3 separate regions of the Homo sapiens genome follow, and regions 1 and 2 are each linked to region 3. Evidence: fine-mapped expression QTL. Tissue or cell type: whole blood. Region 3 holds a variant in brackets; each other region holds the start of a gene. All regions are shown on one strand. Distances are from middle to middle.

The links. PIP is the estimated chance that this variant, and not a neighbour inherited with it, causes the effect.
Region 1: ADGRL1 starts here. The variant in region 3 is fine-mapped to the expression of ADGRL1 in whole blood (TOPMed, PIP above 0.99).
Region 2: it holds the start of ADGRL1-AS1, and the variant in region 3 is fine-mapped to the expression of ADGRL1-AS1 in whole blood (INTERVAL, PIP above 0.99).

Annotation. Positions count from the first base shown.
Region 1 is chr19:14,204,138-14,208,137 of GRCh38, forward strand. It overlaps ADGRL1 (adhesion G protein-coupled receptor L1), which reads right to left and starts at 2,032. Exons shown (of 23, transcript NM_014921.5): 1 at 1,848-2,032. RefSeq lists silencers at 2,646-2,705, 2,726-2,825.
Region 2 is chr19:14,135,467-14,139,466 of GRCh38, forward strand. ADGRL1-AS1 (ADGRL1 antisense RNA 1) reads left to right here and starts at 1,686. Exons shown (of 3, transcript NR_045214.1): 1 at 1,686-1,757. ASF1B (anti-silencing function 1B histone chaperone) reads right to left here and starts at 1,123. Exons shown (of 4, transcript NM_018154.3): 1 at 882-1,123. The coding sequence starts at 990. RefSeq lists a silencer at 889-938 and enhancers at 1,269-1,408, 1,486-2,112, 1,609-1,768.
Region 3 is chr19:14,160,506-14,164,505 of GRCh38, forward strand. ADGRL1 (adhesion G protein-coupled receptor L1) reads right to left here. Exons shown (of 23, transcript NM_014921.5): 5 at 2,101-2,901; 6 at 807-1,121; 7 at 88-191. All of the region lies in intron 2 of ADGRL1-AS1 (ADGRL1 antisense RNA 1), which reads left to right. Among named protein-coding and RNA genes, the nearest start is that of ADGRL1-AS1, 25 kb to the left of the region's middle. The variant A/G (reference allele first, on the strand shown) is at 2,324.

The DNA of each region.
Region 1 (4,000 bases), 44 kb after region 3:
GCATGGCAGACAAATTGCTAGTTAGGAAAATCACGGATAATTTTCTCGATATGATAATGAAGGTTGTAATCCTTCTCTTATTCTCCCTGTTTTCATCCTACTTTTAAGTAATAAATTTGGCATTAGTGGGAGGGGAGCAGGGAGGAAGGAGAAGTCACCTGCCCCCCAAAGCTGGGGCCTGACAGGGACCCACGCAGAGTCCCCTGCCGGGGGCAGACAGGAGAAGAGAATGAGGGGTGTGGACCCTCCGTGGGGTTGATCAATTCAGGGGGCCAGGCCCTGGAGAGCAGGTGGAGGGCACGGAGCTTTCAGGCTGTGAGCCAGGGTGAAGGAGTGGGGTCTGGGGTCAGGTTAGACTCATGCCAGCCCTTGGGGTGTTGGAGAGAGAAGCAGAAACCAATGGTCTGTCCCCAAACAGCATGGAGGTCAACGGCCCGGAATAGACATTCACCCTCAGGTGTGCCCCACTGGATCCGACCTCCTCTAAGCAGTGACTCCCTACCAGGATAAGGGAGCCGGGCAAGCAGAGAGGGGAAGAGAGAAAGACAGAGAGAGATAGAGAAAGACAGAGAGAGTGAGAGAGAGAGAGAGAGAGAGAGAGAGACAGACAGAGAGAGAGAGAGCGCGCGAGCCAGCCATCTTGGCAGCCATTTTGAACCCCTCCCCCTCCTGCCCCCAGGCACACATGTTGGGAAGTGGGATGTGGGAAGACAGACCCCAGCTCTGAGTCCGGTGGAAGCCAGGCGGAAGGGGGGGCCCTGCCTGGAACTGGGATACAGAAACACCCACGCAGCTGGCATGGCTGGGGGTGGATGGGGGTTGGAACAGGAAGAAAGGGTCCAGGCAGGTACAGTGAGGTGTTGGCCAGGGATGGGGCAGTGTGAGGACCCGGACTGGAAGTGTAGAGACAGGGGTGTGTGTAGCCAGCGGCTGTCTTCAGATGGGGGCCAGGGGTGCACTGGAGAGATACCTGGGAGGGCATTTTCTGGACACGGCTGGAGCAAACACAGCATCCCCCCACCCCACCACTTCAGGCCTGGACTCGGGTCCCAGGACCGTCAGATGGGAGGATGACAACCAAACCCTCGCAGCTCAATCCAATGCGCACCTGGGGTGGGGGTGGGGAGCTGTCCTCAAAGCACGAATAATCCGAGTGGATCAAACCTGCCGGCCTCCCGTGCTTTAACCCGGCACCACGGAGAGAAGGTGCTGCCCGGCTGCACCCCCTCCTCCTGACAGCGGCGCCCCCCGGACTGCGGCCGGCTGGACACCCAGACGGACCCCTCCCCATCCCCCGCGCCACTGCCTCCCAGAGAAAAACAACCCCCTCGCCCAGCATCCTGTGGTGCCAGCCCCCGACACGGCTCCTCTGGGGCGCGGGGCCGGCGCGCGGCGCGCACACGCACCCCCTCCGCTCACACCCAGACACCTACACAAACAGGGCGCCAAGCACCCGCGCGCACACGCACCGGGGACACGCAGGCACCGCCGCGCCGCTTCCCCACAAAGGCTGGCGCGCGCGCGGGCACACGCAGCCACGCGCGGGCACACTCGCGGTCCCCTCCCCCCGCCAGGCACCCTGCGGTAGCCCGTCCGCACCCCCGCGCCCCGGGCGCTCCGTGGGGGCCGCCCCTCCCAGGCCCCTCGCCAGTGGGGGTGAGGTGCGGGCTGCCCCCGACGCCCCTCCCGCTCAGGTGCGGTGCCCCGCGCGGCTCCCGTGTCCCCTCCCCCCTCGCGGCCAGGACAGGCCCCGGCCTCCCATCCTTCCCGCCTCCCCTCTTCCACGCGCCCCGCACACCTGGCCCAGGTGCGGCTTCGCCCCTCGCCCTGGGCCCGCAGACACTCACCTGTCCAGCGCCTCTCTGGGGTCGGCCCAGCGTGTCTCTCCTGCGGCTCGGCGAACCCGGGCCCCCCGCCCGGCACATCTCCCGGAGCCGGGGCTGGGGGGAAGCGGGTAGGAGGTGGCGGGACGAGGGCGGCCTCCGTGTCCCTTCCTTCCCCTGGCCCAGCACCGCCGCCGACCAAAAATTAGGAAAAAAAAAAAAAAAGAAAAGAAAAGAAAAAAAAGAGGCGGATTACACGGATCCAAAGGCGGCCCCCTCGCGGCGGCGGAGGCTCGGGACTGGGGGCGATCGGGTCTGCGCCCCTCCCGGGGAGGGAGGCGGTGGGGCGGGGGCGGCGTCAGAGCGCCGGGGGCTGGGGCGAGGCGGAGCGCCCCGAGGCGGCGCCGGCAGCGGCCCGCATCTCCCCCGCAGCTCCGCGGCCCCGACGGAGGCGGCACGTGTGCGCCCAGGCGACTTCCCAGCCCCCTCCGACGCCGGCGGTGGACGAGGGGTTAACGGGGCAGCCGGGGCGCCCCTGCAGGCCCCCGCCGCCCGGCGGCGCCGCTCCGGGGCCCGCGCGGCCCCATCAGCCGGGGCCTCCTCGGCAGACGGCGGGGCGGGGGCACCGCAGCGCCGACAGCTCCCGCGCCGACGGCTCGGGCTCCCCGCAGTGGCCGCGGGGAGCTCGGGTTGGGGGCGGGCGGCGCGGAGCTGGCGGAGGGGGGCGGCGCGGCTGGAGGCGGGTGCCGCGGCGTCGCGCCCCCGGTGCGGCCGGAGGGGGGGCGCCGGGCCGGGCCCGTGGGCACCGCAGGACGCGCGGACCGAGCCGGCGCCGGGCACCAGCAATGACAAGCCGCCTGCTCGCCCCGCTCCCCGGCGCACCCGCTCCGGGAGGGGGGCGGTGGGCGCGCGCAAAACCCGGCCCGGAGTCGCCGCCCGGGACTGGCCGCCGCAACCCGCTTGAGCGCCCCAGGAGCCGGCCCGAAAACCCGGGCTGGACTTTCCTTCCTTTCGCCTCCTCTCGCCTCCTCCCTGGAAAAGCAGGGAGAGGGAAAGCGACGTGCTGGAGCCCCGCGTTGGAGCGGGGAGTGGGGGAAGGGAGACAGGCGTAAGGAAGACCCGGAGCGGATTTTCCAGTGAAGTATAAGGAAAGGCGCCGAGCCCGGGGAAGGAGGGCGCAAATGGGGAGATCTGGAAGGGTTGTGCAAAACCCGAGTTGGATTAGATAAAGATGGGAGGAACGGTGTTGGAGCGGGGGGTTGGGGGGTAGATGCGACATGGCCAAATGCACCCGGGGCACGCAAATTTCGGGCCGGATTCTTTCTCGGGAGACGGAGTAATGCGTCAGGCCTAACGCAGTGGAAACAAGCAAGACCCGGCCCGGAACTCCCGGGACCTGGGTTCGCATGGTGGGGGGTTCTGGAAGGGGGATGCTTAGTGGCTGAGGCGACTTGGGCTGCCCTCATCTTCCTGGCAGCGACGTGCAAGGGGGACGGGCAAAAGGAGGACTGGACTCGGGTACGAAGGGATTTGGCGCGCTGGCTGCACCGGAGCGGACAGGTAAAAGCGGTTTCTGGATCCAGGGGCGCTGCGAAGGGAATGCGATGAGGCCGCTACCCTGGGAGACCAGACCTACAATAAAAGGCGAGGGAGGCACGCAAAGCCAGGACTGGAGCGCGGGACGGGATGAGACCCTCAGCAGAAGATCCTGGGCCACCGGGACAGGGGCTTGGAGCTGACCGGGCAGCAGGGGCGGAGGGAAGCGTTAGGGGGAGGTTTGTACCTGTAAACGCCTCAAAGTCTTGCTTTTGGGGAGGGGGTGCGAGGGGAAAAATTGAATTTTATGTTCTCTAAAAGAGTAAAAACCCGGCATGGATTTTCAACACCTAACAACTCCATTGCAGCTGGTGGACTCTAAGAAGTAGGGCAAGAAGCAGGCTTGGGTTCCCAGGCATCAGACCAAGTGAGGCGAGGGGCAGGTTTCGGGTTGAGGCTGCAGAGGGAGCCCCCGCACCCCCTCTCTGGGGTGGGGAAGGCTGTTGGACCCGGCTTGGCTCTCTGGAGAGCGAAAGTTATGACTGCCAAGACCTATAGCTGGGGCTATAAAACTGGGCCCCAAGCCAAAAATAGGCACTTCGGCAGAACAGGCAACTTTGTGCAGGGTGGGGGCTGGAGGG
Region 2 (4,000 bases), 25 kb before region 3:
TAGGGGGGTTGGGCCCCAACGAAGGAGAGAAACCAGGTTCCAGGGTATGTGCATTGGGGCAGAAAAGCGGCAGCAACTGGTGGGCGTGGGGTTATTGAAATATTGGCAGGTTGGGGAGGGGACTGGTGGGACACAAATGGGAAGATGGGGTTGAGAGAGGTCCTGAAAAGGGGTTGAGGGGTTTTCACAGGAAAAAAAGGTTACTGGAGGGGAGGGTCTTCACGGCAAGGAGAGAGGAGCTTGGGTGAGAGGTCTCCATAGGGAAAATAGGAGATGGCTGGGATTTCCCCCGGGGAAAATGGGAAGGGGCTGGATATTGGGGGTCTCCAGAGGGAAAATGGGAGGTGTGAGTATCTCACTACAGGAAAGAGGGAATAAGTGGGCAAAAATGGGTGGGTGGTTGAAGCGGGGGTCTTGCCACAGGGAAACCACGGTGGCTGAAGATCTCCGTGGGTTAAGAAATGGAGGCCGAGAAGGTCTCCCCATGAAAACGGGTACCTAGGAAGAGCTCCAGAGAAAAAAGATGGATGAGGTTCCCCACGCGGGAAATGGGGCTTGGAGGGGGTTAATCTCTATGGGGAGGTCGGGGCGGGCAGTGGGGGAAGAGGCCACTGGGAGGTCCGAGTTAGCTGGCGGGGGGTCTCCACCCGGGAGGTCAAGGCGGGCAGTGGGGGAGGAGGTCACGGGGAGGTCCGTGTTGGCTGGTGGCGGGGGGTCTCCACCGGGAGATCCGGTTGACTGGCGGGCTGGGGGAGATCGGGGTTGGCGGAAGGGGGACGAGGGGTTTCATGGGGGAGATCAAGTTGGCCATGGGAGCGGTTCTCTGAGGGGAGGCCGGGGTCGGCCCGGGGGTGGGGGTCCCCGCACAGGCCCAGCCTCACCGTCCGCCAGGGCTTCACTGCACTCGAAGCTGATCTCGAACCGGAAGGGGCTGTGGAAAGGGCTCGGGTTCTCCAGGACCGCCACGTTCAGCACCGACACCTTGGCCATCGCCTCGCCTCGCCGCGCCGCAGCAGGGGCAGGGGCTGTGGCTGTGGCGGAGGCCGCGCCTGGGTCCGGTGGGGTCAGTGGGGTAGGGCTGACCAGGTCCACTCCCGCCTCTTCTCTCCGAGAACTGAAGTGCGCACCTAGTCCGCGCGCCGCCTTCAAATAGCCGGCCTCCGCCCTCTGGCCAATCACCGCCAACGCTCCCTGGCGGCGCGCGCACCCCCTCAGCCAGTCCTGGAGCGCCGATCGGCGCGCGCCCAGACTCCTCGGACCAATCAGCGGAGCTCCCTCTCCGCAGCGTGTGAGGAGGGCGAAACTATCTCCAAGCTTCTTAGCGTGTCCGCTGGAAACCAATCCCCAGCGTCTCCGACTTGGATGTCAACGGCGGGAATGGACGGAGTCACAGCGCCGGCCTCCTTCTGGCCAATCCTGAGGGTTCCCGCACCGGCGTGGCCCGCCCCTCGCCTCGCTTTTCCGGGAGATGCATCCCGCAGCGCGCAGCGCCGCCACCCGCCGAGCGGTGGCGCGCGGCGCTCGCTAAAGAAGGCGGGAAGGGCGGTGCTCGCACCCGAAGTGATTGGCAGGAGGGAGTGGGGCGGAGATAAAGAGGGTTTTCTGAGAGTTTATTGGCTGGATTGGTAATGGTGGCGGGAGCAGAAGGAGGCTCAGCTGGGGATTCGCTGGAGAGAAGCGGAAGTCGAGCGCCACCGCGGTGTTGGCGAGTGTGAAGAGAGAGGAGGAGCGTTTGCGGCCTCAGCGTCTGTCAACAGGTGAGCGTTTCCTGGAGCTTTTCTGAGTGGCTCCTGACCCTTGAGGTCCAGCGGCGCGGGAGTCCGTTGTGAACGTTGCGAACGTTCGGAGTGGCGGTCACGAGGCGCGCTCAGACCTCGGGAATCCGGCCGGGTTCGGATCCCGCTTTCGCCCCCGAGGGGTTCGGATCCCGCTCTCGCCCCCGAGGGGTTCGGATCCCGCTCTCGCCCCCGAGGGGTTCGGATCCCGCTCTCGCCCCCGAGGGGTTTGGATCCCTCTCTCGCCCCCTTGAGGGCTCTTGGGAGGTTTCAAGCGGACGGTACTGAAAATGGGAGTTCCAGTTCGGGGGCAGACCAGTGTTCAGAGTCCGGGCTCTGCTACTCAGCGCCCGAGGCAGCGCCTCCCCATTCAACGGGGGCCGTGGCAATTCCCTGACATGATTCATGACCACATAATACATCCGGAAACTTCTCTCCACCGCCTCCCGTCTGGGCCGTCGCCCCCGGCCTGGGAGACTCCAGGTCTCAGAGTCTCTGCCCCCACGGGCGATCAGTGCTGCCCAGTGGAAAAATAATGCCAGCCGCGCACCAAAATTAGGTGTAAAATTAACATTTTTTGGAAGCCACTTTTTTTTTTTTGAGATGGAATCTCGCGCTGTCACTCAGGCTGGAGTGCAATGGCGCGATCTCGGCTCACTGCAACCTCTACCTCCCGGGTTCAAGCGATTCTCCTGCCTCAGCCTCCTGAGTAGCTGGGATTACAGGTGCCCACCACCACAACCAGCTAATTTTTTTTCTGTATTTTCAGTAGAGACGGGGTTTCACCATGTTGGCCAGGCTGGTCTCGAACTCCTGACCTCAAGTGATCCGCCCGCCTCGGCCTTCCAGAGTGCTGGGATTACAGGCGTGAGCCACTGTGCCCGGCCATATCTTTTTTTATTATTATTTGTAATTTTAGAGGCTGGTCATGGAGGATTTCTTGAGGCCAGGAGTTCAAGATCAGCCTGGGCAACATAACAAGACCTCATATCTACAAAAAATAAAAGAATAAGCCAGGTGTGGTAGTGCATACCTGTAGTGTCTGCTACTCCTGAAGCTGAGGCAGGAGGATCTCTTGAGCCCAGAATGCTCCAGCCACTGCACTCCAGCCTGAGTGTCAGAGTGAGACCCTGTCTCTAAAAATTAAAATTAAATTTTAAAAAAGAAAGTTCAGTTTAGCTGTCTTGATAGCCGCAGTTGAGTGCTCCTGAGCCCGTGTGACAAGTGGCTCCTGTATTACTGGACAGCGAAGGTCAGAAACACATTTGACCAGGTCACTTCTCCGGATGAGAGCATTGTCTTTGAAACTCTATGCTTTGTCTCCTGTTAACCACCCAGCTCCAACTTCAAACCAGGCTAAGTAACCCTCTTTTTGTTAAAATTCTGACAAGCCACTCCCAGTGCAAAGCCTCTGCCCAGAACCTCTTCTCCTAGGCTCTTGGCATGGCTTATGCCTTCTTGTCATTCAAGTCTCTGTTCAAATGTCCTCTCCCCAGAGAGGCCTTTCTAAGGGTGCTCTGGACAGTGTTCAAACTCACAGGCCGTACGCCTGAACAGCACTGAGCCAAGGCACTAGTATTTCTTACCCAGTCACCTCTGTGGGCTCACTAGGACTCACTCACTGTGCTAGTATGTTTTCCTTTTCCTTTTCTTTTTAAACAATCCAGTTCCTGTGGGATTTTTTTTTTTTAATAGAGGTCTGTTGCCCAGGCTGGAGTGCAAGTGGCATAATCGTGGCTCACTATAACCTGGAACTCTTGGGCTCAAGTGATCCTCCCACCTCAGCCTCCCGAGTGGCTGGGATCACCAGTGCGTGCCACCATGCCTAATTTGTTTTATTTTATTTTATTTTTTTTTTGAGAGGGAGTCTTGCTCTGTCACTCAGGCTGGAATGCAGTGGCGCAATCTCAGCTCACTGCAACCTCCTGCTTCCAGCTTCAAGCGATTCTCCCACCTCAGCCTCCCGAGTAGCTGGGACTACAGGCACACGCTACCTTACCCAGCTAATTTTTGTATTTTTAGTAAAGATGGGGTTTCACTATGTTGGCCAGGCTGGTCTCAAACTCCTGACCTCAGGTGATCCACTCACCTCGGCCGCCCAAAGTGCTGAGATTACAGGCATGAGCCACCGTGCCCTGCCTCTTATACTTTTTAAATTTTTTGTAGAGACAGGGTCTCGCTGTTGCCCAGGCTGGTCTTGAAACTCCTGGCCTCAAGCAGTCCAC
Region 3 (4,000 bases):
TCTCCCCAGCTGCTCCACGACCCCCGCTGGGCCCTGGGCCCTGGGCCCGAGCACATGTGCCTGCCTGCGAGGGGTGGTGGCTGGTACCTTCTGGGCCACCTGGTTGACCCAGGGGGAGGTGCAGTTGCTGAGGTCAGGGCCCCGGGGGTTCCAGAGCCCCAAGGCTGGTAGACACTGGAAGGAGGCAATTCCTGCAGGGACAGACAGACAGGAACAGACAAGGGAGCCAAAGGGAAGAAGAGAAGGATGGGACAGAGAGGGGGAAAGGAGATGACAGAGAGTGGGGGACGAGCGGGCGAAGAGGGAGGTGAGGGAAACACGGAGAAACAGACATGAAGCGGGCTGGACAGTCGAAAGAGGCGCCACTCACTTCCCCTGAGCTCTCCCTCCTGCCCCCTTCTGTCTTTGCCTCCAGAGTTAGAACCTTCCAGCAAGGCCCATCTTGAACGCCCCCTCTCCACGAAGCACCTGCCAACCCTCCCCTCAGATCTCCAGGACACACGGCCCTGCCCTTTTTGCACTTCAGCTGGCCATCCATGTGAAGCTGACTGTGCCTGGGGCTGTGGCAGGTCAGCCTGAGGCCGGGAGCCAGGTCACCTCCTGCGGACTCCCTGCAGGTTCTGCAGGTGGGGCCAGGGGCACTGAGTGGCTCCTGTGCCCTGAGAGCTCTGCTGGTCACTGGGGATGACCCCTGCCCTCAGAAAACCTCTGCTCCGCAGTAGAGACCCCCACCCACACATGCATCTGTGCTAAGCTGCTGGGGGCATGGCCCCCATCCCTCCCCTGGCTGCAGCCTCTGTACTCACCTCGAGTCCCCTTGGGGCAGGGCCTCTCCACCAGCATGCCCTGCTGGGTGGCCGGCCACTGGACCCGCCGTACCTCTCGGGGCTCGCAGAAGAGCTCAGGGGACACGTGTAGATTCGGGGCTGGGGGCCGCCGGGTGCTGGGGACTGGGGCTGTGGCTGGAGGCAGATCAGGTCCCAGCTGGTTGATGGCACCCACTGGGTGCGTGGTGAGGGGTGCCCGGCGGAGCGGGGTGGTGGCTGCGGGCGAGGCTGTGCTGGTGAGGGGCGTGGGCCTGGCTGTGGTGGTCGTGCTGAGGGGTGGGGAAGTGGCTGGGCCTGGAGAGGGGATACGAGACAGGGTCATCCCCATGCTCAGGGCCATGCCACAGTGTGCTTGGGCAGGGGGTCCCAGGCCATCTTAGCATCTTCCTCATCTACTGAAGTGGAAACACGTGCCGGGCCCCACTGGGTCTATGAGTTGATCTCCCCTGGCCGCTCTGTGCCCACCAAAGTCCCTTATGCCCATGGGCCCATATAAAGTAGCAAAGAGTGGTAAAAATCCACGATGTGTACCATAAGGTCTGAGAGAACGGTCAGGGGAGAGGCAGGGACAGAGGTGTCTGGGGGACAGGAATCCTCCCAGGTTGAGCCCGAGGGCAGGAGCCCTCCCCAATCCAGGTCAGCCCCGCCACCAGGTGGGGGCTGAATACCACCGCCCCCCATCCTCGTTCTAGCTGACTTTGGCTTATGTAACCTGGCTATGCTCCTTCCTTCTGGGGGCCTCAACTCCCCCTTTTGCAAACAAGATGGGGTTAGATCGGGCTCCCTGGAGCCCTGGGGTGGCACAGAGCTAGCAGGGCAGCTAGGCGGGGCAAAAGAAGACTGCAGAGTTGCCCTCAGCCCGGTCAGCATCAGCAGCTCAGCTCTTTTGTGGATACTGGACTTCCACCCAGGATTTTGGTGGATCCAAGGGTTCCTGGAGTAAAGGTGCCCAGGCCCCTGGGAGAGGCACTGCAGTTCAGTGGTTGGGAGGCTGGGTTCAAATCCTCAAATAACTTAATCCCCTACCCACACAGAGCCTCAGTGTCATCTGTAAAACAGGGCAGTAAGGATCCCTGTGTCATAGACCGTGAGGAGACGAGTTAATGACTGTGAAGTGCTTAGAACAGCGTCTGTCACATGCTGTGAATTTCCTTTACCTCCCGATCCCCAAGAGCTCACAGGATGGGGCTCCCCACTCTGGGACCCAGGGGTGGGTGGGGGTGGAGGGGACAAAGGCAAGCAGGCTCCATGCCTGGAAGTGAGTCGTCCTCACCAGCACTGGGGTCGGGCGGCCCGAACTCCAGGCTGTAGCGCACCACGAAATAGTTGTTCCAGACGTACAGCTGGTTGTCGCGAGGGTTGTAGTCAACGGAGGAGATGAACTGGTAGGGGTTGGGGAAGGTGAGGCTGACAGGCTCCTCGCGGTTGGCATTGGTGTTGAAGGCATAGTCCACGCGGTTGCCAGCCGCCTCGCTGTCATCATCCACGTACACGGA[A/G]CGCAGGACGTACAGGACCCCACACACCATGAAGGCGTTGGATGCCGAGCGCTTGTCGTAACCCGTCTCCCACGTGCCCTCAAAGCGCAGTGTGTAGGGGTTCAGCTGGCTCACCACCAGCCGCCCGTTGTTGCCCTCAGTGGCGTAGATGACCCACAGCCCGTTCTCGTCCACCGCCAGGTCAATGTCGGTCTTTCCGCCCCAGCGGTAGGGCGAGGTGTCATGGTAGTTGGCGGTATTGATGACCGTCTCCCCGCTCTTGATGCGCGTCCGTAGGTCATACTTGACGATGTTGCGCGTGCGCTCCTTGTTGTAGAAGACGGCACCATCGTAGACCACAAAGCCTGTGCCATCCACGCGGTTGGGCAGGCGGTAGGTGGTGGTGTGGCGGGCGGCCACGTAGTCCTCCCACGAGGCATACTCAGTCAGTGTGTCCGTGCGGTAGGGGATCCAGGGCATCACGTAGATGCGGTCACCCGCCTGCAGCGGGTCCTTGCACCATGCGCCAGACTGGTGCTCTGACTCGTGTGTCGAGGTGGGCTCCAGCACCTTCTGCAGGGTCCCTGGGCACACGAAGACTGGGCAGAGTGGGCGGGAGGGGAGGAGGTAGGAGAGAAGGGGCAGAGGCGAGAGGGAGGAGAGAGAGAGAGAGAGAGAGAGAGAGAGAGAGGGGGGAGAGAGGCAAGTTGGTCACGCTGCTGGTGGGGAGCCAGGTTGTCCCCTCCTGCTGCTGCAGTCACGGTTGCTTGGTATGGCTGGTGATGGGAAGGGGGTTTCCGGGCTGGGACCCGACCCCCTCCCCACGCCCTGCCCAGCTGCCCCTCTCCCTGGAAATGTGAACCCTGAAGGCCATTAAGAGCGGGGTTAGTGAGGGGAAGTGGTGCCCCTCTTCCCTTCCCTGGCTGCTAGAGACCCCACAGGCTGGGGAGGAGTTTGGCAAGAGCCCTCCCAGAGGTGGTCCTGTGTGATTTAAGTGGGGGCAGAATCTCCCCGCTACAGTCACTCCTGACTTTGACGGTCCAGGGACTCAGCACCCGGCCCCTTCTCCCTCTTCTCTGCCACTTAGGGAAGAGCTAGGGTCCAGGATCCCATCCTTCACCAACCACACCCGGACAGTGTTTTTTTTTTTAACTCCTCTTTCTTCCTCCTGCAAAAATTGCAAGGTAGAGTGGTGTTTCCATACCCACTGTGGGTGTCAGGAGTGTCTCCCTATTCCAGGATAGGGGTTTCAACTCTCTCCCCAGGTTCCTGATGCAGCCTGCTCCCCACCCCCCACCCAGTACCCACGAAGTCAGTAGCCGAGGAAGGGATTCCCAGAGGCAGCTCCCAGGCTAGGACGGGGAATGAAAGAGTCTGGCCCCTCCTGGAGGGCGCCCAGCCCTGCCCCCAGCCGGCAGGGTCTCTCATGGGGTCTGGCTCAGCAGCAGACAGTGGCACTGTGCACAGGGGTGGGGGTGGGGACATGGAGAGGGACAGGGCTCCCGGGAGAGTTGGGGAGGGAGAGGAGAGCTGTGCAGAGGGAAGAGAGACAAGGGCGTATGGGGCTTGGCGAGGTCCTGGCTCCGTGGGAGGCTGCGCTGCAAACCACCTGGGAAGAAAGGGTTAGTGCTGGCGGAGGAGAGAGGGGTGAGCAGAGAATTCACTCCAAGGCCCAGGCCCGACTGAGGGTCCCTCAGG